Linked DNA regions of Homo sapiens. The protein of the gene in region 1 purifies or fractionates together with the protein of each later gene. This does not show direct contact. Each region holds a gene or a part of one and is shown in the gene's direction. Other genes may lie near its edges.

Region 1 (3,500 bases):
AGTGCTCAAAAAAGTTGGGAAGGCTTCACCAAAGATGTGACATTTAGGGTAGATAACACCTGTTTGTGGATACTAATGTCCTGGTGAGTCAAAGAAGAAAAGGATGTACATTATATAAGCTGGATGCAAAAAGGAACAATAATGAGGACATGCAACCAAAAACTTACATAGGGAGAACAACTTTACTTACTCAGGGAAGGCAAAGAGACCACTTAAGAACTCCTTCACATGTGTTATGTCTTAAAAGCTGACTACTGGAGTTGTATCCCTTGCACAGCATCCCTTTGCACCAAAGTGAACACTACTCTAAGAACATGTGTTCAGCTCTCCTGAATGCCAAGCACAACCATGCTTGGCATGGCAGTGGTGTCTTATTTCTGCTCCTCTTTTTCCCCAGGGCATGCCATTGCAAGAGAATGCTCAGCCATGTTCATCTGGGGACCTGCTCCTGGTAGAGCAATAGGATCTGTGTGCCCAGCACCACTGCCCACCTAGCTGTCCTGGCCTGTGCCCAATGCTGACCTTCACCTCAGAGTGTGGCTGTACCACATTCGGTGATGTCACTCTCACTGAACCTTCAGCCTCCTTCCTGGGACTTCCTGATGGACTGTTATCCAGGGCAGAATGTGTTGATTTTCTAAATCACATAAATGAATAGCTTGACTGTTGATTATGTAGAAAATCAGAGCAAATATTTGCATGGCTTTGTGCAGCCCATTCTTGAGCATCTGATTCTCCCCAGAATTCTAAAAAACCTGCTGCTTTCTCAAGCCCTCAGTAAAGACATGCTTTCTTGATAATCCTAGCCAAACCTATTCATTTGACATCTTTGTTACACAAATGGTTAACCACAGAGTTAACTTCAGAAATGGCTGGCAGGTATGAAGGTTAGAAGATTCATGCACTTTTGCTAGACTGAATTGGAAGTTAAAGAGTAAGTAGTTACTGACTGCAGAGGCCTGGAAAACCATGGAAAAAATCCTATTCCTCAAAGTCGAGCCCTACCTCCTACGCCTCTTAAATCAATTGCCACAGTGACCAATTTGTCAGTCACCTAAAGGCAGCTATCCTGACCACTTAAGGGAGAATACTTATAATCTTTATACCTAAGTAAAGATTGTGAGAGGAAAGAAATGGTTTAAAGAATATGAATGTGTCACACTTCTGAGGTTAATGATAAATGAATTGGTCCTGCTTACCTCAGGAAAAACTTTCAAGTCTTTCTGAAAAACTAATTTAATTCAGTAGTATTTTCTAAGATTTAGGTTATGTTTTTAATCAATTTGGAAACCAAGATTTACTTATAGAAAAAAAGGAAAAGGACCTAGATAGGTTTATTCACATAGAATCCCAATTTCACTTCTCTGGATGATACCATTTTCTACAAAAGCAATTATGTTCTAAAATTTAAGTGTGCTTTCTTAGGCTTTATCAGTTCACAGTGTTTCCTTAAGAAATATGATCCAGTATTTTTTCCTAAGACTAAAGTTGAGTTACTACGTTTATGACTGAGAAATGAATGTTTGTTAGTTTGTTTGTTTACAATAAGAATTTTTTCTTTACCATTTTATTTTTATTTTCCCCAGGTGTATTTGATATAGTGTTTGCAACAAATTCGACCCAGGTGATCAAAATGATTCTCAACTCTTCTACTGAAGATGGTATTAAAAGAATCCAAGATGATTGTCCCAAAGCTGGAAGGCATAATTACATATTTGTCATGATTCCTACTTTATACAGTATCATCTTTGTGGTGGGAATATTTGGAAACAGCTTGGTGGTGATAGTCATTTACTTTTATATGAAGCTGAAGACTGTGGCCAGTGTTTTTCTTTTGAATTTAGCACTGGCTGACTTATGCTTTTTACTGACTTTGCCACTATGGGCTGTCTACACAGCTATGGAATACCGCTGGCCCTTTGGCAATTACCTATGTAAGATTGCTTCAGCCAGCGTCAGTTTCAACCTGTACGCTAGTGTGTTTCTACTCACGTGTCTCAGCATTGATCGATACCTGGCTATTGTTCACCCAATGAAGTCCCGCCTTCGACGCACAATGCTTGTAGCCAAAGTCACCTGCATCATCATTTGGCTGCTGGCAGGCTTGGCCAGTTTGCCAGCTATAATCCATCGAAATGTATTTTTCATTGAGAACACCAATATTACAGTTTGTGCTTTCCATTATGAGTCCCAAAATTCAACCCTCCCGATAGGGCTGGGCCTGACCAAAAATATACTGGGTTTCCTGTTTCCTTTTCTGATCATTCTTACAAGTTATACTCTTATTTGGAAGGCCCTAAAGAAGGCTTATGAAATTCAGAAGAACAAACCAAGAAATGATGATATTTTTAAGATAATTATGGCAATTGTGCTTTTCTTTTTCTTTTCCTGGATTCCCCACCAAATATTCACTTTTCTGGATGTATTGATTCAACTAGGCATCATACGTGACTGTAGAATTGCAGATATTGTGGACACGGCCATGCCTATCACCATTTGTATAGCTTATTTTAACAATTGCCTGAATCCTCTTTTTTATGGCTTTCTGGGGAAAAAATTTAAAAGATATTTTCTCCAGCTTCTAAAATATATTCCCCCAAAAGCCAAATCCCACTCAAACCTTTCAACAAAAATGAGCACGCTTTCCTACCGCCCCTCAGATAATGTAAGCTCATCCACCAAGAAGCCTGCACCATGTTTTGAGGTTGAGTGACATGTTCGAAACCTGTCCATAAAGTAATTTTGTGAAAGAAGGAGCAAGAGAACATTCCTCTGCAGCACTTCACTACCAAATGAGCATTAGCTACTTTTCAGAATTGAAGGAGAAAATGCATTATGTGGACTGAACCGACTTTTCTAAAGCTCTGAACAAAAGCTTTTCTTTCCTTTTGCAACAAGACAAAGCAAAGCCACATTTTGCATTAGACAGATGACGGCTGCTCGAAGAACAATGTCAGAAACTCGATGAATGTGTTGATTTGAGAAATTTTACTGACAGAAATGCAATCTCCCTAGCCTGCTTTTGTCCTGTTATTTTTTATTTCCACATAAAGGTATTTAGAATATATTAAATCGTTAGAGGAGCAACAGGAGATGAGAGTTCCAGATTGTTCTGTCCAGTTTCCAAAGGGCAGTAAAGTTTTCGTGCCGGTTTTCAGCTATTAGCAACTGTGCTACACTTGCACCTGGTACTGCACATTTTGTACAAAGATATGCTAAGCAGTAGTCGTCAAGTTGCAGATCTTTTTGTGAAATTCAACCTGTGTCTTATAGGTTTCCACTGCCAAAACAATGCCCGTAAGATGGCTTATTTGTATAATGGTGTTACTAAAGTCACATATAAAAGTTAAACTACTTGTAAAGGTGCTGCACTGGTCCCAAGTAGTAGTGTCTTCCTAGTATATTAGTTTGATTTAATATCTGAGAAGTGTATATAGTTTGTGGTAAAAAGATTATATATCATAAAGTATGCCTTCCTGTTTAAAAAAAGTATATATTCT
Region 2 (3,500 bases), on another chromosome or scaffold:
ACTGTCACTTCTCCTTTATTATATTCATTGGAAGCAGTCACTAAGTCCAACCTACATTCAAAGAGAGAGGAACCAGACTCTATTTATTAAAGGAAAGAGTGTTGAAGAATTTGTAGATCTGTTTTTAAACCACCATATAACCCATCAGTTAGAAATTCTCAGGTGGTATCAGCTTGAAGTAAATAGATCCTCTTTGCAGACTGCATCCAATTGGTTACCCAGCACACATGAACACAACTACCTATAACTACACAGTTTAAATCTATGTCAAATCATTGATCTCCAGAATGCCACCTACAGAATTTCCCTTCTACAAAATATGCACCTCAGTGACTCTAAAATATCAGAGATATAACGTGAATATATTAGAACTCAATGAATATTTGTCAAATTGAAGGGAGTTACAATATAAGAGATCCCAACCCAGGCTTTGGCAGGCAAGATCTGCTCTTGCTTTTTCATAACTCCTTCACTAAAAAAAAAGAAAAAAAGAAATGAGGATTTATTCCAACCCACACGATAAACAGAGTAACCAATTTGGGTGTATGAGGGGAATTTGCTTGGCAGATAGCAGAATTACAAATAACCTCTGTTTCCTACCACCAATCTAACATGGTGTTCTCAGTTTAAAGAATTGGAATATTCATTTATATTCTGATGTTCATGAACATAAATGAAGTCAAACCCTAGTCTAGACAATCTTTATGGCAATTGCCAGAATGTTTGGGCTCATCTCAGATAATGTGTCTATAGCCTCCTCATGATTCCAACCCTGAAGGGCTGTAACATAACCAAGCCCATTTCATCGGAGTTTGTTTAAAGCCTAGTCCAAGGCATCCATTCAGTGAACATTCCATAAGGGCAAAGCTGATCTCAGGCAAAACAGTACCTTAGCTAAAGTTTGGATTTGCTATACCCATTTTCCCTCTCCACTTCCACCTCACTCAGGACCATTCCAAGCTGGGACGAGGAGATTGGTAAGATATGAAAGAGGAGAGGGAGATGACTCTCTAAGAAGTCCCAGCTACGCCACTTCCTAGCTTTGTGATTTGTGCAAGATTTTTGCCTTTTCTGAGATTCGATATCATCGTTAGATAATTCAGAATTTGAATCTCTATAGATAAGGATAATTTTCCATTGTTATCAGTTATTTACAATTTACAGAGTTGTAAAATAGCTCCCACAGAAACAAAAGCGGATAACCAGAATGATAAGCTATAGACAGTGCATACTTTTCATATGGCATAAATTTCTCCTTACAGACATTTGAGATTTAAAAAGTAACAATTGTTTCATAAAATGTCAATTTTTTTTAGCTGTTAGCCAGGGACATGTAGAGGTTAAAATACACTTAACCAAATGATAATAGGTTAGGTGGGGCAAACAGGCTTTGTTCATTTCTAGGACATGGTAGTACCACCCTGTTTCCATCCTGTGTTAGTCAGTCTTGGATGTGGAACTTGTGAACAGATTTATAAAACTTCTTTCAACCTGAGTAACAAAAGACTCTTAGAATCCAAGTCTATGGAAGATAGACCAATGGAAGATTGTCTTCCTTTGAAGACAAAAGAAAGACCAAAAGTGCTCCTCTTTAGCAGGAATTCTAACCAAATGAAACATTGGCTGGGTTCAGGTTCAGTTTAAGGAATGTTTTGATGTTCTACTTCATTGGAAAATATACAGGTTTGATTCTGGTTTGAACAAGTTTGCTAGATATCTATATCTATATCTATATGGTCAAATTCATGGTTCAGTTAATAGCTAGGTTCATTCTGACTTGAGGTTTAGTAAATTGATGCTATTTGGTCTGTAATTTGTGCTATAATTTGATTCTTTATTCCTTAGTCTTTAGACCTTAAGTTGTCCCTTTCCTGTTCTGCCCCATGAATAAATCAAATCCTTCTACTTTATTTCCTTCAAGTTCAATCCTCACTTCTGCCAATATTGAGTTTGCCCCAAATGGAATGTCTGTTGCTAAGCCCTAAACTCAAGTTAAGTAAGGATTTTGTTGTCTATATAATATTTCTGTAAGGAGCTCATTTTCACCGGGCAGAACTGATGGACTCTTAGAATCCAAGTCATATTAGCTATGTCTGTCTTTAAATCAGGCCATGGAACTGTGGTAAAAAAGATAAAATCTGAGCCCAGGAGGCTCCTATGGGATATTTGAAAAAAGCTTATGCAGTGCCACACTTTGATTAACCCCGGACTTGCCATTTTGATGAGCGAAGGTAAGCCTGGCTTCAGAACTAAAGAAAGACATGTCTCTCTCTGTTTCCATTTCAGCCATTAATGTGTTAATTTTCCCTTTATGTAACTTTGTCCCCAGTTGAATTGAATTGAATTAAAAGGACAAAATAGCTAGTTGCTGGGAAGGAATCTTTCTCTTTCTTTCTTTTTTTTTAAGGAGCCCCCGAAGGAAGCTAATTACCCACCCTGGTAGGCTGAGAGAATTGTAATGTGATAATTAGTTTGCTATTCTTCAACAGTAAGTCATTGTTGTAGCAATCCAATGTTCTCCATTCCCCTTCCCCCAACTCATGTGCACCTATTTCTGAAAGTCCGATCTTTTCCGTTCCCAAATTCATAAGAAAGAAAGCCTTCTCTAACAAAATATACAGCCTTTAGAAGGGGAGGTCAAGGGACACAAAACAGCAGGGTTCATGAAAGACCTGTATCCCAGGGTCCTTCTTTTCTGAAACTAGTAGGCTGCTTTGGGTTGCCTAAGATAGAGGGACTTGGTCATTCTGACCTTCCTGAAAGTGACTGTCTAGACCAGCTCTGCTCAATAGAAATAGAATGTGAGCCATAAATGTAAATCATGTATGTGATTTTACATTTTCTAGTAGCCACATCTTAAAAAGTTAAAAAATGGGCAAAATTAATTTTGACATATTTCATATAATGATACATTCAAGATATTATCATTTTAACATATAATTAATGTAATAAATTACACATTCTTTGAAATTGAGTTGTATTTTACACTTACAACGTATCTCAGTTCTGACTAGCCGCACTTCAAATGTTCAACAGCCATGTGACTATTGGCTACTGTTTTAAACAGCACAAGAATACCTTTCTTCTCTAGCTAAGAGAGATTCATGATAACAATCTTTTTACGTGAATTAGATGCTATGCACTTTGCAAAATATTTCCAAATCTATTACCTCAGTTGTTCCTCATAATTGCACTATGAATTAAGTTGGAAATTGATAATTATCTTTTTTTTTCATTGGGGAACTAAGATACAAAGTTTAGGATCTTGGGATCTTCCATGTCACACATTACTTAGCACCCAAGAGCCAGAACATCGCTCTCCTGACTTCCCAACAAGCATTATTCGCAGTGTCCCACTGACACACAGTAGTTAGTATGTGGGATGTGCTGTCTGGTGAATGCAAAGGTCTACGTTGGATGGTCCTTGCTTCTTGGCTTCTTTTCCCCTTCTCCCATCTCCAGGCTAGGGAGGTGGAAAGGCAAGGGGTGGGTTGGTGTCT
Region 3 (3,500 bases), on another chromosome or scaffold:
AAGATTGCGCTGCTGCACTCCAGCCTGGACCACAGAGTGAGGTCTGTCTCAAAAACAAGGAAGAAAAAAAAAAGAATAAAGCTATGTGGATACATTTAAAAATTATCATGTAGGTAATTTAGAGTATGTCATTCTATGTCTTTGCTAGAAATGATACCAAAATATTATTTTTTAAAAATTAGGTTATTTTTTGAATAAGTGGTATATTCATGGCAGAGAATTTAGAAAAGGCAGATACAAGGAAATTAATTTTTAAAATAACCTATAATTTTATCACCTAGAGAAAATCTGTCAGTAGTTTAAGGTATTTCTTTCTAGATTTTTCTAGATTTTAATTATCTTTCAAAGTTGGGATCATACTGTATATAGAAATTGGAAAGGACCACTACTGTTCCCATCAACATAGCATAAATAATAATCATTGAAAGAAAATTTTAGATCTTTCTAGCAGAGTGAGTCAAGTAGCCAAGTATTTTCAATGATTTCATCTGGTTAAAGCATTGTGACATTTCCTTAACCTTTTGCTGTAAGTATTATAGTATTTAGAACTAATTATTTACAAATTAAACACAGATTCTGTGTGGAAGGAAAGTTGCTTGAGTATTGTCACCTTAATGATTGTATATTGGTCATTGTACTGGAAATTATCCAGTGCAAAATAGGATATCATCAACTATAAAAGAAAATAAGAAGTAGTCATTTAATTTGTATGGCTAGAACTAATTGTTGTTGTTGTTGCTGTTGTTTTTGAGACAGTCTCACTCTGTCCCCCAGGCTGGAGTGCAGTAGTGAAATCTCGGCTCAATGCAACCTCCACCTCCCGGGTTCAAGCGATTCTCTTGCCTCAGCCTCCTATCTGGGACTACAGGCCCGTGCTATCACGCCTGGCTGAACTAATTTTTAAAAACAATATTTTTAGTAAAGTTTCCCTTTTTCATTATAATTACTTACAGAGAAGGCAATTGTAGTTAGTACTTTATGCTTACTTGTTGCATTAAGGCTGTACTTTTCCATGAACTGGAAATAGCTACTCTTTACAAATAATATGTTTTCCTATAATCCTAGCACTTTGGGAGGCTGAGGCGGGCGGATCACTTGAGGTCAGGAGTTCAAGACCAGCCTGGCCAACATGATGAAACCCCGTCTCTACTAAAAATACAAAAATTAGCTGGGCGTGGTAGCGGGCACCTTTAATCCCAGCTACTCGGGAAGCTGAGGCAGGAGAATCGCTTGAACCCGGGAGGTGGTGGTTGCAGTGAGCCGAGATTGTGCCACCGCACACCAGCGTGGGTGACAGGGCGAGACTCCGTCTCAGGAAAAAAAGAGAAAAAATAGTAATAATAATATGTTTTTTTTTAATTAAAAATTTATAACAGTCTGGTTTGGATGAATGGTAAAGACACTCTTTGAATGAAGGTCTTTTGGATGTGTAGGCCTAACCTTCATAGGTAACGGCCTCTCCTGGTTCCCTTTTGGTGTTGGGCAGCTAGCTTTTGCACAGCATCAGGCTGAAGTCGCCAAGATGGAGCCATTAAACAATGTGTGTGCCAAAAAGATGGACTGGACTGGAAGTATCTGGGGTAAGGTGTTTGTGCACTTGTCCTTATTTTGAATAGAAATTCTGAGAATGAAAGAACATAGAACAAAGAGAATGATAAAATAACAGGAGGCTTTCCATGACTGAATCTTTAATATCAGAAGAACATGCAAGAAGCATTTTAGGTTTAAAACCAGTGACTTTTTATGCTCATCTAAAGTCACAGGGAAGGAATAGAAGTTGTATATATGTTGGCTCTGATATTATCTGTCTTCCTTCATAAGACTGTGTGAAGGATCCTATGCTCGCTTTTGTTCATCTCGTTCTTTGCACAGGGTCTGGCATATTCTCAATAGAAGTTTATTAAACAAGTGAATGAATGTATATATGAATTAATATCCATCTTAAATTTAATGGCCTTATATTGACTTGTGAAATTTTATGTTGTAGCTTTACTTTTTTTTAACTACGGGAAAAATTAGTTTTTTTATTCTTTCACATTTTATAAACATTCTCATGAATGTTCACTACCTTTGGTTGTATGTATCTAGCAATGGGGATGGTTTAATAATGTTCCAAGGCATTTTATAAATGCAAGTCCATGACTGACACGGAATTCTGCAGATGGAATCCAAAATAAATGTTTCTTAAAAAGTTGTGGGAACTAAACCAATTCAGCCTTCCTTCCTGGCTTCAGTGGACAGTGAAATGCCTCCTCTAGCTCAGGCTAGTTTCCCAACGTATATAAGCCTGATTTGGAAAAATTAGAACTAATATTCCACTTTATTTTGTAAACTCCATAAAGAACTGACTTTTTAAATTAAAAATTTACTGAGGTAATTGTGGATTCACACAGTAAGAAATACTACAGAGAGAGCCCGTGTACCCTTTCCCCATTTTCCTCCAGTGGTGACATCTTGCACAGCTTTAATAGTACAATATCAGAGCCAGGATATTGACTTTGATACAATCCACCAGTCTTATTTCGACTTCCCATTTTACCTGTACTCATTTGTGTTTGTGAAGCATTGCTTTTAAAGTGTTTACCTTTTAGACATTTTTATAAAATACAATTTTTTATCTGCATAAAACATGTATAATTTGAATGGATTTTTAAAACATGATTTTGGACATAAGATGAAAAATTTAAAAATCAGCATTACAGGGAGTCTACTTAAAACTTAAGATAATTTAAAACTCATTGGTGGGTGGTCAGGGAGGGTCAAAACCAAAGTAATGTCTTGTTTGGGAATGAAATGCAACATTAAAAGAAATGATCAGTGTTTTGTCTGTTTCTCTAAACAGAATGGTTTAGAAGTTCATGGACCTATAAGGATGACCCATGCCAAAAATACTATGAGCTCTTACTAGTCAACCCTATTTGGTTGGTCCCACCAACAAAGGTATAGCATATATTTTGTAAAAATTACTTAAAGTCAGTCAGAAATCCCTTGTATTTTAAAGAACTTTAGTGTTTGAGTCATTTTGCTAATAAGCGTTTGTCCAAGAAAAAATACTTTTGCACAGTGATTTTCACATTAAAAATGGCACAACAGCATTTTAATTTATGTAACATACTTTCAGCATCAGTACTCAATGAATTTTGATGCATTCTGTACCTTAGTCCTGTGAGGAGAAAATTAAGTTGCTTTTCTCTCGTTTTAGGCACTTGCAGTTACATTCACCACATTTGTAACGGAGCCATTGAAGCATATTGGAAAAGGAACTGGGGAATTTATTAAAGCACTCATGAAGGAAATTCCAGCGCTGCTTCATCTTCCAGTGCTGATAATTATGGCATTAGCCATCCTGGTTAGTATTAATATATTAGCACTGTCGGGCCAGGCGCGGTGGCTCACGCCTGTAATCCCAGCACTTTGGGAGGCCTAGGCGGGCGGATCACGAGGTCAGGAGATCGAGACCATCCTGGCTAACACAGTGAAACCCTGTCTCTACTAAAAAA
Region 4 (3,500 bases), on another chromosome or scaffold:
CAGCAGACCCACACTCTAACCCCACAGCTGTTGGCCCGCCATGCAGCTGGGGCCTCAGAGAAAGCCACATGGTCATCGCAGCCAGGGCTAGGGTGGGGGGACCGGAGGAGCAGTGCAGCACTGGTCGGGTAAATGGAAATGTGGGTGTGAGCCATACTTGGCTGTCTCATTGGGAGATATCTGTCAGGTGCGACAAAACGAGACAAGGGAAAGAAGAAGGGGTCAGACAGCCGTGGGCAGAGCATCACCAAATGTCCCAGGTCAGGGCCAGGCAATCAGAGAAGCAGGTCTTGAGAGATCTCAGCAGGGATATGGGACGTACTAAGAGGATGACGAGGCGGAGAGGGCCCCAGTCCCACCCCCAGACCCCAGACACCCACCTTGGCCCCTGGCTTTGGAGCTGGGATCTCCTGCTGCAGCCTGGACCAGGGTGCTGCTGTCCCTCTGCTGCCCCCTGGTGGACACTGAGAGAAAGCCTGCTGCTCCCGGAGGACCTGTCCCGTGGGTACAAAACCACTGTCCTCTGGAAGCCTCTGGCCTTGCTGCGGCTTCCCTTACAAATGATCTTTGGTCTTGGGAGTCTAGTCTTAGGCCTCCTTCACGCCCTTGACTGCAGCATCTCCGGCATCTAGGCCTACCTTGTCCCCTCCAGCTGGTGGCAGCTCAGGACACTGCAGAGCCTGACTTGCCAGGAGACCTCGCAGGTCCTGGGTTCACAGGGCTATTTCTAGGCTCTGGTGGCTCCAGCCCTGCCTGCCTAAGAGGGTCCCTCCACAATCAGTGAGGAAGCCAGTCTCTGGCCCCCAGGTCTGTCCCCCATTCTACCTTAGCAGCCGCAGAACCCACTCCCCCTCCTCTGGAGCCCAGAAATTCACACATCTCACCACTTTGTCTCCTGAGCCCAGTCCATGGGCCCAGACCTCAGCCTCCATCTTCCCCAAACCCCTGCTCAGTCCCAGCACTGGGCCTTAGCCCCCCTCCAGCTCCCTCTTGCCTTTCAGCCGTCTTGGTCTCACTTGTCCTTCCAGCCCATCTGTACCCCTCCTCCAGGAAGCCCGCTCTGCCTGCCCCACCCATCCCAGCTCACACCTTCTCTTCCTCTCACTTCTCCTGGTGTCCACCTGATAGCATGATTGCAAACTCTTTACCTGACGATGTGGCTGCAAACTGTTGACTGGATGCCAGGGTTTCAAATGGCAGCATATAGGCGGGTGTTCAACCTGCACACGGTTTTTCAAAAGAAGTAAATGGTAGGTTCATTGCCAAGATTTAGAAATGAGGAGATTTCATGTAATAACCTGGATTTTCTGGCTTCTCTTGAAAAGCAGAAGCCCCAGGCCCTGGCTGCCGTCCCACCTGGCAGGAGCTGACACATAGCCCGGCCCGGCCCACCCAGCCCACCCCTCGCCTTTCTCATCCTCGTTTGTGCCACCTTCCTGGCCAGCTGCTGCAGCCCCTGCAGAAGGAGACTTGCCTCTGAGGGACTGCTTAGAACAGTGCAGCACCTGGGCCCAGCCCAACCCAGTGCCTTGAGCCTTTGTTGAACAGTGAAGCCCCCAGAGAGAGAAGCAGAGGCATGAGTGCCAGACCCTGAGCCGCCAGCCTGGTGGTCCGTGGGGGCGTTAAGGGGCAACACTGAGCGACTGAGTGCTCTGCTTTGTCCTTTCAAGGGTGGAACCTGGTGCTGGCCCTGATGCCACCTTCGATTCCTTTGTTTGGGGGGCAGCCCCCTCCAGACCCTGAGCCCCAAGAGGCCAGTCTGGCTGCTCACTCTCCCCGGCGTCCCCAGCCGGTGCAGTGCCTGCCCCACAAGGACCAGCAGGAAGTGTACATGGGATGAATATGAGCAAAGCGCACAGGGCATTGGGAAAAGACAAGGCTGGGCCCCTACCCCAAGCAGTCTGCTCCTCTGGATTTTAGCCTCAAAGCAGACACTTAGTAGACACCAACTGCGTACAGCTGCAGCGCTCAGTAAGGCAGAGGAGAAGAGAGAATCACGAGGCTGGGGCACTGGGAGTGCAGGTCAGGGGCCGGGGCCCTGTGGTCGTGTGGCTGGCCATGGCTAGTCAAGGCCCCCTGCGCAGGTCTAGCCCTCTGGCCTCATTCATAGCCTCATCCCGTCTCACCTGGGTGTCTGCTCCCAAAGACTCTTCCTCTCCTAGTAACCTTCCTGCCTCGTGGTTCTGATGAAGACACTCTCCTACCTCAACCATCCCTGGCTCCTTCTACCTCCAGATGAAAATCCCGCCACCTGACCTGGCCTTCAGGATCCTCTATCATCTCTCCCTGACCAGCCCCCTCCCCTTGACCCATCTCTGCACCCTCCTCCCGCTTTCTAAGTCAAACGTGTTTTGGGTGTTCCCCAGACTCACCCTGCACGTCCTGCCACTCTGCTTTGCTGGTGCAGTTCCCTCTACCTGTATACCCCTCCCCCTACCCACACCTTGAAAGCCTATTTGTCCTGCAAGACTCAACTTAAATACCTCTTCCCCGTGCAGCTCCCTGACCTCCAGCTGGCAGCCAGTCATGCCCCCTGCCCCCGGGGTGCCCGATCTGTATCACCTTGATGCGTCCTCTGAGCATGATTAGCCCCCCATGAGTCTGAGCACTCCTAGAGGCCAAGTGCCTCGGTGGTGCCTTCTCTGTCAGGAAGGGGCTTGCACCCAGGAGGTACAACTCTGCAAATTAGCTGAGTATGTGCACGAGACAGAGCTATTGATGCAGTCCTTGCCTTTTGTTGCTTACCCTACACAGAAGAGGTGACAGTGACTCGACACCCATTAATGAGTGCCCACCATAACCCAGGAACGAGGTCTGTAATCCTGAGAGAAACAAGATTCCTGCTCTCCTGTCCCATCAGGCATCTAGCCAGGCTGTGAGTGTGTGAGCACAGATGCACGCCAAGACTCAGAGGCAGCCCTGAAGCAAGACCTTTGCAGGGTGGGGCAGCGTGTCTTGGGTTCCTAGGCATGGTGCAGACACTGTGGAGGCAGGAGGTCCGGACAGGAGGAGAGGCCCAGGGGACGTGGCTTCATGGGGCTCTCTGTTTCAGCTGCTCACGAAAGATGCGAAGCAGAGGCTGGGCTGCCAGGAGGAGGGGGCTGCAGAGGTCAAGAGACACCCCTTCTTCAGGAACATGAACTTCAAGCGCTTAGAAGCCGGGATGTTGGACCCTCCCTTCGTTCCAGACGTGAGTAGCCTCCCCCAGCCCCCAGCAGCTCCCTTCACAGGGTACCCAGGGCTGCCCCCGAGTGCTGCCTCACAGTGAGCTGGTGCAGAGTGTGGGGCACATCGTGTCTTTGTGGGGACCAGGGTCCCCTCCCGGCCACTCCTCACCTAAGCTGCAGATGAACTTCACGCCAGGCAGTGCAGAAGAGGCGTGGGCCAGGGAGCCCACATTGGCTGTCCAGAGACTTGGGCACTTTCCCAGGTCTGGGGGTCCTGGACAGATTCCTTCTAAGCGTCAGTTTCCTCCCTGTCCAGTGAAACCAGTAACACTC
Region 5 (3,500 bases), on another chromosome or scaffold:
AGACTCTTAAACCTGTGCATGTGTGGAAGGGATCTGAGTGGCAGAACTCCCATTTGGAATTCTGGACTGCTTATTTGTGTTAAATCCTGGCTGAGCATAACAATGACTTGCTAACTTCAGCTCTTCATGCTCTGCCTTAGATAGGAGTTGCGGTGCCAGGTGAAGAGTTCTTTCTCCTGGGCCACGGATTGTGTTCTTTACCTCATTTCCCAGAAAAGGAGGTATAGTTACAGCAAGAGGCAAAAGTTAACCTGGGCGGAGGCCTCAGTCAGGGAAATCTGACCAAGAGCCATCACTCATCTCTCCCTCTGCGTGCCCTATTTGTTGTCCTTTTTGAATTGTGTATTGAGATCAGTTTCAACTTCATATTTTTTTAAATCAAAAATGTAAACTTTAGGAGAGCCAGAATTGCAGCGAAATATTTGTCTGATTTAATTGGACAAAAAGTTTTCCAGTTAAACCCTAATTTCTCAATTAAGACTGGGACCCTGGGGATCTTAGCCAGAACCCACCGATTGTTCCTAAAGCCCCTAGAAGTCTCACTTCGGTCTCAGGCACTCGGTTTTCTGACTCCTGCTGTGGGGTGTGGAGTAAGAATGGGGAGGAGCAGGATCTTTGAGCGTGGTCCTCTAGGCAGGTCTTTAGAATGCCCAAAATAGATCCTGTGTTTTAAAACTCATTTGTTACAGTACTGGGTATCTCCTGATTTTAAACTGTCTTGCGCAGTAAAACAGGGGTGAGTCTCTTTATTCCTAGGATGAATCCCTGCCTCATTTCAGATTTGTTTGGCTTAGCTAATATTTGTTATGGGTTATCATTATATGTCTCTGCTCATTTTTGTTAATTACCTGTATCCAGGGTACCTAGAGAGCCCTTCCCATCCTGATCTCTCTAGGGAGAAAGTCGTCCTTGGCTGCCCAGCAGTGACCAAAGTCTTCAGGAGAAATCAAGGTCAAAGCAGACAATTTATAACTTTTGTCTTTTTTCTCTCCCTTTGTTTTCTTAATTCCAGACTTTCTGTTCCAGATCTCACTCCAAACATTGGTCTTTTCTGGTACTTCTTTGCAGAGATGTTTGAGCACTTCAGCCTCTTCTTTGTATGTGTGTTTCAGATCAACGTCTTCTTCTACACCATCCCCTTAGCCATAAAGCTAAAGTAAGTGGCTGGACCTGCTGCTGCTGTGTGTACAGAGCTGTCCGAGAAGCCCCTGCCTCTAGTAGCCTTGAGGGTGGCCTTCAAATGTGGAGCACCTGCTGTCAGGTTTAGAGCATCTCACCTAAGGAACCTGCCTTCAGTTGCCGCAGTTGCCAGCGCCATAGCAGGCAATAGAGTCGCATGGGTGCAGGCTGCAGTGAGGGTGCTTTGGAGCCCCAGCATTTTCCCTGGCCTCACTCTGAGGTGCTCAAGTCCACATTGCTGCTGAGCCCATTCACTGTTTTGGACTAGAGCCAGGCGGTGGCCAGGCATGGTGGCTCACACCTGTAATCCCAGTACTTCAGGAGGCTGAGGCAGGAGGGTCACTTGAGGCCAGGAGTTTGAGACCAGCCTGGACAACATAGCAAGATCCTGTATCTACAAAAAATTTAAAAATTAGCCAGGTGGCTGCCTGGGTGCAGTGGCTCACGCATATAATCCCAGCACTTTGGGAGGCCAAGGCGAGTGGATCACCTGAGGTCAGGAGTTGGAGATCAGCCTGACCAATATGGTGAAACCCTGTCTCTACTAAAAATACAAAAATTTGCCAGGTATAGTGGCGGGTGCCTATAGTCCCAGCTACTCTGGAAGCTCAGACAGGAGAATTGCTTGAACCCAGGAGGCAGAGGTCACAGTGAGCCAACATTGTGCCACTGCACTCCAGCCTGGGCGACAGAGCAAGACTCCATCTCAACAAAAACAACAACAACAACAACAAAAATTAGCCAGGTGTGGTGGTGTGCCCCTGTAGTCCCAGCTGCTTGGGAGGCTGAGGCAGGAGGATGACTTGAGCCCGGGAGTTTGAGGCTTCAGCGAGCTGCTTGTGCCACTGCACTTCTGCCTGGATGACAGGCGGAAGTGCATGTCTCAAAAAAAAAAAAAAAAAAAAAAAAGAACAGGAGTTGTGGAGGGGAGTGTGTTTGGAAAAAGTGTATCTGGTGGAATGTCTCCATCAACAGCCCAGTGACAGGTCCTCCACAGGGACTCTGGATGGTTTAGTTGGGAGGCTGGCCACCTGCAACTGTTTAATCTCCTGATCTGTTTCCCTCCAAAGGATGTGTGGAGTCCTCTTCTGCAGTCTAAGAGAGCTGATAGATGTTAGGCCTGCTCCATTCCAGGTGCCTTTCTAGACCCTCTGAAACATAATCATACCTAACCTAGCAACTCCTGGAGGTAGGCGTTAGATTCTTATCACTCCCATTTTATAGTTGAGGAAATCGATGCTCAGAGAGGTGGGATGATTTTCCCAGTCACACAGCTAGTAAGCAGTGGAGCTGGGATTTAGACTCAGGTTTGTCTGGCTCCAGAATCTATGCTTATCCCCCTGCACCATGCCAAGCTCCGGAGAGATTGCTTTTAGTAGCCTCCGGAAATGGTTCTATTATCCTAGCTTCAGATAAGGGAAAACAGACACAGACAGGTACAGATACGCCTAGATGGTCTGGGGAACCTGAAAGAGTTTGATTTAGGTTTCAAGAGCTCAAGTTCTCTGTCCTAACCTTCCTGCCATTCTCCATGGTCTGTGCACCAATGCACGTGGTTCCCATTCTGTAAAATCTCAAAAGCTGATGCTTCCTTCCCATGACACAGCCTTGGCCTGGCTTCTGACAGAACACCCTCCTTCCATGGCCTGGCAGGCTCCGGAACTCTGGCAGCCTTGCCCAGCTGAGCTCTCCAGCTGTCTGTGGTCCACCTTCCCTGTCCTTGTTCCGGTTAGGCCCAGCCATGGGGTGAAGAGGAGCAGGGATCCCAGGGCACCTTTCCGCACTGGCCGTGCAGCCAGCTCTCCGGCAGCTTTTATTGTCTGCATGCAAAGCCACACATTGCTCCTGGCTAGGCAATAATGTCACCATTTTATGACCTAAGCCAGGCCCACACAGTTGTGGGGACAGAAAATATGAAGAGACCTGCTCTCCCTGCTGTCTTCTCTTCTGCCTGGGTATGAAGCTCTACCTAAGCTCTCCTGCCCCCTGCAAGATTTGTTTCCAGTGCCAGCTTTGTAGGAACAGGGCCCTTCAGGCCACCCCAGTCCCTGTGCAGTGCTGCAGGAGGCTGTAGTCTGTTTTTTTGTCACCGCATTTTCACCAGCCTTTTCATAGAAATGTTGCCGTTGTTACCAGCTACCTGAAAAGCCTGAAGCCAGTGATGTGGATTGTGTTTAGGAAGATGTTCACACTGAGCTATAGCTGGACGCTTCTTAGAGGCTACAGGGCTGCACGCCTTTGCCAAGCTGCGTTTCTGAGGCACTTGCTGCACAGCAGCACTGGAGCATTCTGGGTGTGGACATGTTTGTCTGCACATCTCA
Region 6 (2,351 bases), on another chromosome or scaffold:
TTCATTCATTCATTTTCTCAGTTAACAAATATGTATTGAGTACCTCTGCGTGCCAGTTCCTTAGCAGCCCACCTAAGGTTGGGCTCTGCTCCTAAGTGGCAGAGCAAGATCTGGACCCAGGAAATGTGACACCAGAGGGCACGCTGGGGGCTCTGCTGTTGCCCTCCTGAGTCATCACTGGCGCCTGCAGCACTCACGGCAGCGTTCACTTACATGTAGAGCAGCGGGGCTGGGGGGGACGGTCATGGGCTGGACCAGGAAGTCTCACTCTCTTCCCTGGTGGTTGGAGAAGGAGACCCTGCGGGGCACAGGTGGTGATGGGAAGTGCCCGCGGCAGCCTGTGAGTTAGGGCCTGCCTGGGGAGGGGTTTGATGAGGTCTAGGGCGTGACCACAGGTTTCCCTATGCCTAAATTAATCAGTAGTCGGGAGTTCTGGAGAGCACCTCTCTTCCCAAGAAGGAAGTTTTGGCAGCACTCTCCGCTGGTGGAGCAGTGGTCTATGGAACGGAAGCATGGCCAGGGGCCCTGCCCTGGACCTCAGGTAAACCACAGCTGACCCTGTGCCAGCTGTAGTCTGAAGTTTTCCTCCCCAAGAGCCAGCGGCGCAGGAACAGCCCCACCCCGACCTCTGAGACGGTGTGAGCAAAGCGGTGCTCTGGGGCGGTCATAGCCCGGGAGCGTGGGCAGCACACCTTTCTCTGGGGTCCTGATCTGCTGCTAGTGGAGGGGTGGTTCTCCCAGGTAAAAGTCATGGAACCTGCATTCCTACAGTTTTTTCACGGGGCATTTCTTGGAGGAGGAGGTGGTTATGATGGAGACTCAAGCCAGACTGCCTGGGTCGGAATCTCAGCTCCATCCCTGCTGGACGGTGCAACTCTGTGCTTCGGTTTTCATCTGTAAAATGGGTAGGATAATAGTGCCTTTTTGAGTTAGAACCATTATAAATATTAGCTATTATACATTTCCATTTCAGACAGAAGTTGTCAACACCATGTGTGGCTACAAAACTATCGACAAGGAGGTAATGTCTTTGAAATGCCTTTCCCTGGAAATGTTGCTCTTCCTGGTCCACCCTGGGGTGATCGGAGGGGTTTATTGAGGTCGGGGTCCTGGCCACTGAGATTTTCCCACATTCCTGGCTGTGACCCAGAGCCAGGACTGCTGTGGTTTTCCACCCCAGCACAGAAGGGCTCAGGGAACCAAGAATTCCCCCAGGCTGGGAGATGCCGCCTGTCAGGGTTTGCCGAGCACCTACTGTGGGCTGTTCCACATGAAGCCACCACGGCGCTTCCTGGTACCCGCAGCGTGCTGTGTGCCCAGCCATGCTCAGCACCAGCTTGCCTCTGCCCCTGGGGCCACCTGGGACCCAGGAGTCCTAGAGGATGGTAACCCCCTCTGGGGGTTGCTCCTGGGTCAGCTTCCTGGGCAACACCCCTGGTCTAGGAGAGAAGCAGGGGTGGTGCTGAGAAGGGACCTAAAAGGAATAGTGACCTGACATGCAGAGCAGTGGCTTTCAAAGTGGGGTCCCCAGTCCAGCAGCAACAGCATCCCCTAGGAATGTGAGAAATGCACATTCTTGGTATGGGGCTAGTGGGTGATTCTGACACATGCTTGAGAGCCATAGACCAGCAGTGGTTCTCAGCCCCTCAGAACCAATGGCCATTTTTATAACAAACAGTGGTAATGTCCTATTTATTATCCCCAAGTGAAATTCACAGATAACCTACCTACATGCCCAATTCCAATACAATTAACATAATGATCTGAGATAAAGTAGAAATGAAATACAGCAATTTACAGCTGTTTAACATAGTTCATCATGTAAGTGCTTAGGCAGTGGGGGGTGCAGAAGACACAATGTAGTCAGGTGTCTGCACTGATGTGAGGCATCCCTGAGGCTGTAGTAGCTACAGGGCAGCTGATACTGGGCATTGTGTTGGCGACTCACATACCATGGGCATCATTTTTGCCACTGGCATGGTTTTTAAAAACGGTGAACAATTCTTGATAAAGTTCTGAATTAAATAATGTGTAATCATTCCTTAATTTACCTAGTAGTACTTCTGGAAAATTCTTTGTATATTAAAACCAATGCAGAAATGCTTTTTTTTTTTTTTTCCCTTAAGAGACAGACAGGGTCTCACTGTTGCCTAGGCTGGCCTCAAACTCCTAGGCTTAGGCACTCCTCCCAACTGAGCCTCCATAGTAGCTGGGACTGCAGGCACTGGCCACCATGCCCAACTCTGCTTTGTTTTTTATATGTACCTGGAGTGGGGCTATTGGCTTGGATAATTATAAATAGGCTTTTCATGTATGGAAAACATCCGTGAGGCTTTTCATGCAGGGACATC
Region 7 (4,284 bases), on another chromosome or scaffold:
CAAGTATTTTGGATAAGGACTGCTCAACCTATATTTGGATAAGGACCGCTCAACCTATGTGTTACCATAATTCATGAGCCAGTCTACTTTGGACATTTGGGTTGTTGCCAGTATTTTGCTATTATAAGTAATGTTACAGTAAATAATTATATATATATATATATATATATATATATATATATATATATATATATATATATTTTTTTTTTTTTTTTACATGTGCATGAGTCTGTGTGTCAGACAAATGCCCAGAAGTGGAATTGCTGGGTCAGAGAACATAAGCATTTGGGATCTTGGTGTAGAGGCTGTCACATTTTCTCCTAGTGATGGGCTTATTTCACTAAAGCCATGTCCACAGCATGTAGTATCATCATACTTGGACTTTTGGCCCATCTAATAAGTGAAAAATTATATCTTTGTAATTTAATTTTAAATTATTTTATATAAATAATGTATTCACATAATTTGAAATTCAAGAAGTATAAAAGAGTATGCAATGAAAAGTCCCCCTGTTACCACCCCCTCCTGTCCTCAGCCATCTAGAACTCCTCCGAATCAGCCGTTCCTTATGTATCCTGCTAGAGATGTTTTGTGCCGGTGCAAGCAAACATATATATAGTTTTTTCCCTTTATTCAGAATGGTGGGATATATACACAGTGTTCTGTACTTTGCTTTTTTTTTTTTTAATCTATTTTTGGAATCAAAGAAACATAAAAGCCTTTTTTAAAAGAAGACTTGCTTGGTCCTTAGGTGAGCTGGACCCAGAAAGAATGGGCTCAGGTATTCAGTACGGAGATGCTGCCTTGAGACAGCTGAGGTCACCGCGGCGCGCACAGGCCCCGAACGCTCAGGAGTGTGGTTGTTAGGAGAGCACACAGGTGGGTTTGGACACCTCCCTGCCCTGAGTTCCTGGCAAGCTCAAGTGCAGAGGCCTGTTAAAGCTTTGGGAAGCTGCAGTATGAAAAAGAGGGGATCCCAGCCGGGTGCAGTGGCTCTAATTCCAGCACTTTGGGAGGCTGAGGTGGGCCAGTTGCTTTAGTTCAGGAGTTCGAGACCAGCCTAGGCATCATGGTGAAACATCATCTCTACAAAATACAAAAAATTAGCCAGGCGTGGTGGCGTGCACCTGTAGTCCCAGCTACTCATGAAACTTAGGAGAATTGCTTGAGCCTGGGAGGCGGAGGTTGCAGTAAGCCAAGATCATACCACTGCACTCCAGCCTGGGCGATAAAGTGAGAACTGTCTCAGAAAAAAAAAAAAGAGAAGGAGAAGAACCCATAAGTTAAAGTTGGATGTTCTAACTGAAAGAATTTATACTCTATAGGAAATTCTTATGCTCTTGTTCAGAAAGAAAGGAAGGGCAGGTGGTGGTTGATGGGAAGGGTGAGATATCCTGATTCCTTATGTCAGTGAGGAGCCCTTCCTGGATTGATTGAGGTCTAAATGAATGTGCCTTTTGCTAAAACAGGAGGCCTATTTATAAAATTGACAAATGTCTCCCTTTAACTTTTTAAAGCTTCTTCTTTTTTCCCATTTACCACAGTGGACGTTTTATTTATAGTCGACATCATGTAGTAGGCACAGGCAAGTGTTAAAAGACAAGATATTCACGAATTCTCTTTTAGGCTTTAAGCTGTATTTACTTTTGCATTTATAGTTATGCAGATTTTGAAATTGTTCTTAATATTTTTTAGGTGTTCATACAGTGGCATTTGGGACACAATCGTTGGAACCTGAAGAATCTGAAGTTTTTTTTACCACCATCTTTTTCTACTCTGTATGGAAGTAGATCTTTATGGGGAAAAGAGAATTTGGGGTGTTCTGCAAGCCAGTCAAAGTGGCACAGCAAATCATATAAATCGAATTAAATGGACAACACCGTTAGATGTGTATGTAAAAATTTTCTGTTTCATATTTTTCCTTTCACTTTCGGTTTAAAACATGCTATATGTACTGTATGTCCTGTAGCCCAGTGCGGCTCCACAGCATGGAATCTGATGTATGATATGATAGAATGTGGCACTAAATGCAGTTTCAGATTTTATTTTTTTTAATCATATGAACTAAAATTGTCAATTGTGAGGTGTGCTTTTCTCATCATGTTGGTTATATTGCACAATTGGTTATATTTATGACCTGATATTCAAAGACTCTGGCATTGATAGCCAGTGTGTTTTCTTATTTAACTCCGTTTACTACATTCTACATGGTGTTTACGTGATCCACACTTGAAATACTAGATCAGTAGACATTCACTAATATACCAAAATAAAATGAAAAATTGAGTTTTTCCGTGAACTTTATACTGTCCAGCTCTGTTGATTTTAAAGCCTCTTCATCCAGGTCAGTTCAGGAAGTATATCTGGAGTACCTGCTCTGTTTTTGGCTGTGAGACTAGCACTAAGGATTCTGGTACCTTTACCCAAACCTACTGGGCTACTAATACTTCTCTCAGCAGTTGATCAAATACAATAGACCATGTAAGCTGGGGCCGCTCATCCACTTCCAGTTTGCTGGTCTCCCTGCTAGAAAACACATTGTACTGTGCTTTTTCTGGAATTCAGTATAATGGCATCACTGCCTGTTTTTCACATCTTTTGTTTCCTGTTCATTTTAAGGAAACCTACTAAATCCAGTTAATATTAAATGGACACCACTCATTAAGAAATTTCTTTATGGCTTCTGCTGAATACTTAAATGCCTTACTACAGTTATCCAGTTGACATGTTTTTAATTCATATAAGGTATATTGGGTATATTGAAGTATATATTGTATTACAAAGACTTGTTCTTGTATTTTAAAATGTCAGTGCAAAAAATATATGGTGGAACCTTTCTTTAAAGTTGAAATGCAGTATTATTTAAATCTGAAAGGTTAAAAAGCTTTCTTCACCTTATATATGTTCTTCCACTGTGACTTTTTAGTTGAAGACTAGTAAATTAACTTTTAGTTAGAAGATGCCTACTGCTTTTGTTGTTTATTTTAATCAGCAGAGCACAGAGACACATAAAAACTCTGGGAAATGACTAGGATAAAAATATCAGTATGTATCTGTTTTAGATATTTTGAGTTTTGCTTTTTTTATGCCTTGAATATTTTATTTCAAAAAGTATCTGAAGCAAATTCTCAGACTGAACTACTTCTTAGACCTCACTGTAAGAATATTTTATTCAATGTCTCATTTATGATAGATTTGCAAGCTGCTCATTTTTGAACAGCTTTTTGCATGGGATAGGAGCATGTCTATTCTAACACATCAGCTTATTCAAAAGCAAGAATTTTAAAAATAAGATAAATGTAAAGTTGTTTTATAAACGATCCTGTTAATTAAACCACAGACACCATATATCCTTCTGCATCCTTTGGCCAATAAAAGTTGCTGGAGAACCAAACCATGGTGGTTCTTAATCAGGCTTTGCCTTTAGGGAGAATGAGGAGGAGAGATAATTGGGTATTGTTCAGGCTAGTAATAAATGTCATGTTTCTATTTCCCGCAACTCATTAAGTTTTCAGGAAGCTCTTAATTTAGATTTCTAGGAAAGTAATTATTCAGTCTTCCTAGAAAAAGATTATAAAGACCATTTAAACTGGAGATTGTAATTTATTCTTTTACAGTCCAGCATTTAAGTGAAAATGAGAACATCACAATTTGGGAATCTGTAATGGTTTTGTTGAAAACATTACTTGTGGCTTGTATAAGAGTGGCTGAATTCAAGAACATTGATTCTTAGCAGATCAATAATAGTATTTAAAGAATCTGATGCTAAAATTAGAAACCTAAATGATTTGTAATTTGTACTGTGACACAGCAGATGATGTTTCCTTATTTTCTGACATCTTTTTATGTTTTTGGAGAGGCACATTAGAGGTGCTTTAAAAAAAACCTGTGAATTTTTAATATTTTGTGGTGCCATTTGTGAAGCACCTCTTTCCTGATCCATCTAACTACTCCTGTACGTACAGTCTGAGTTTGTCCCACTTGTTGACTTGGTTACTTCCCTATTGTATTTATTTCTTTAAAGGGTTGTTTTAGAATTTTAGAGGAATTTATCTGAGAACACAAGATCTACCACTTTCAGTAGGACAAGTGACCCAAGTTGTTGGTCACCAGCCTCAAAGTTTAGAAAACACTACCTACTACCTACTGATAGAAAATAATGTGGTTAGGGAATCTGTTTTTTTCTTTTAAAAGAGCATTTATGTACTTTTTTCCTTCATATATCCCCCTCATTTTTTTTCTTTTTCTTTCTTTTTTTTTTAATTTTATTTTTTGTAGAGACAG

The links.
Region 2: the proteins of AGTR1 (region 1) and DCX purify together in Homo sapiens (affinity purification with mass spectrometry; 2 studies listed by BioGRID and IntAct, with this or other methods). This does not show direct contact.
Region 3: the proteins of AGTR1 (region 1) and CLCC1 purify together in Homo sapiens (affinity purification with mass spectrometry, with the first as the bait; one large-scale study listed by BioGRID). This does not show direct contact.
Region 4: the proteins of AGTR1 (region 1) and GRK5 purify together in Homo sapiens (affinity purification with western blotting, with the first as the bait; one study listed by BioGRID). This does not show direct contact.
Region 5: the proteins of AGTR1 (region 1) and PIGU purify together in Homo sapiens (affinity purification with mass spectrometry, with the first as the bait; one large-scale study listed by BioGRID). This does not show direct contact.
Region 6: the proteins of AGTR1 (region 1) and TSPAN15 purify together in Homo sapiens (affinity purification with mass spectrometry; 2 studies listed by BioGRID and IntAct, with this or other methods). This does not show direct contact.
Region 7: the proteins of AGTR1 (region 1) and RAB4A purify together in Homo sapiens (affinity purification with western blotting, with the first as the bait; one study listed by BioGRID). This does not show direct contact.

The regions. Positions count from the first base shown.
Region 1 is NC_000003.12:148,739,403-148,742,902, forward strand, and holds part of AGTR1 (type-1 angiotensin II receptor), read left to right. Parts: intron 1-397; exon of another isoform or gene 398-554; intron 555-1,586; 5' UTR 1,587-1,633; coding exon 1,634-2,713; 3' UTR 2,714-3,500. UniProt on the Homo sapiens protein: Receptor for angiotensin II, a vasoconstricting peptide, which acts as a key regulator of blood pressure and sodium retention by the kidney.
Region 2 is NC_000023.11:111,325,193-111,328,692, reverse strand, and holds part of DCX (neuronal migration protein doublecortin), read left to right. Parts: intron 1-3,500. UniProt on the Homo sapiens protein: Microtubule-associated protein required for initial steps of neuronal dispersion and cortex lamination during cerebral cortex development. May act by competing with the putative neuronal protein kinase DCLK1 in binding to a target protein.
Region 3 is NC_000001.11:108,939,485-108,942,984, reverse strand, and holds part of CLCC1 (chloride channel CLIC-like protein 1 isoform 1 precursor), read left to right. Parts: intron 1-1,486; coding exon 1,487-1,580; intron 1,581-2,842; coding exon 2,843-2,940; intron 2,941-3,202; coding exon 3,203-3,349; intron 3,350-3,500. UniProt on the Homo sapiens protein: Anion-selective channel with Ca(2+)-dependent and voltage-independent gating. Permeable to small monovalent anions with selectivity for bromide > chloride > nitrate > fluoride.
Region 4 is NC_000010.11:119,445,071-119,448,570, forward strand, and holds part of GRK5 (G protein-coupled receptor kinase 5), read left to right. Parts: intron 1-3,052; coding exon 3,053-3,190; intron 3,191-3,500. UniProt on the Homo sapiens protein: Serine/threonine kinase that phosphorylates preferentially the activated forms of a variety of G-protein-coupled receptors (GPCRs).
Region 5 is NC_000020.11:34,583,093-34,586,592, reverse strand, and holds part of PIGU (GPI-anchor transamidase component PIGU), read left to right. Parts: intron 1-1,012; coding exon 1,013-1,156; intron 1,157-3,500. UniProt on the Homo sapiens protein: Component of the glycosylphosphatidylinositol-anchor (GPI-anchor) transamidase (GPI-T) complex that catalyzes the formation of the linkage between a proprotein and a GPI-anchor and participates in GPI anchored protein biosynthesis.
Region 6 is NC_000010.11:69,503,465-69,505,815, forward strand, and holds part of TSPAN15 (tetraspanin-15), read left to right. Parts: intron 1-973; coding exon 974-1,021; intron 1,022-2,351. UniProt on the Homo sapiens protein: Part of TspanC8 subgroup, composed of 6 members that interact with the transmembrane metalloprotease ADAM10.
Region 7 is NC_000001.11:229,302,111-229,306,394, forward strand, and holds the end of RAB4A (ras-related protein Rab-4A), read left to right. Parts: intron 1-751; coding exon 752-867; 3' UTR 868-879; intron 880-1,695; 3' UTR 1,696-3,784; downstream 3,785-4,284. UniProt on the Homo sapiens protein: The small GTPases Rab are key regulators of intracellular membrane trafficking, from the formation of transport vesicles to their fusion with membranes.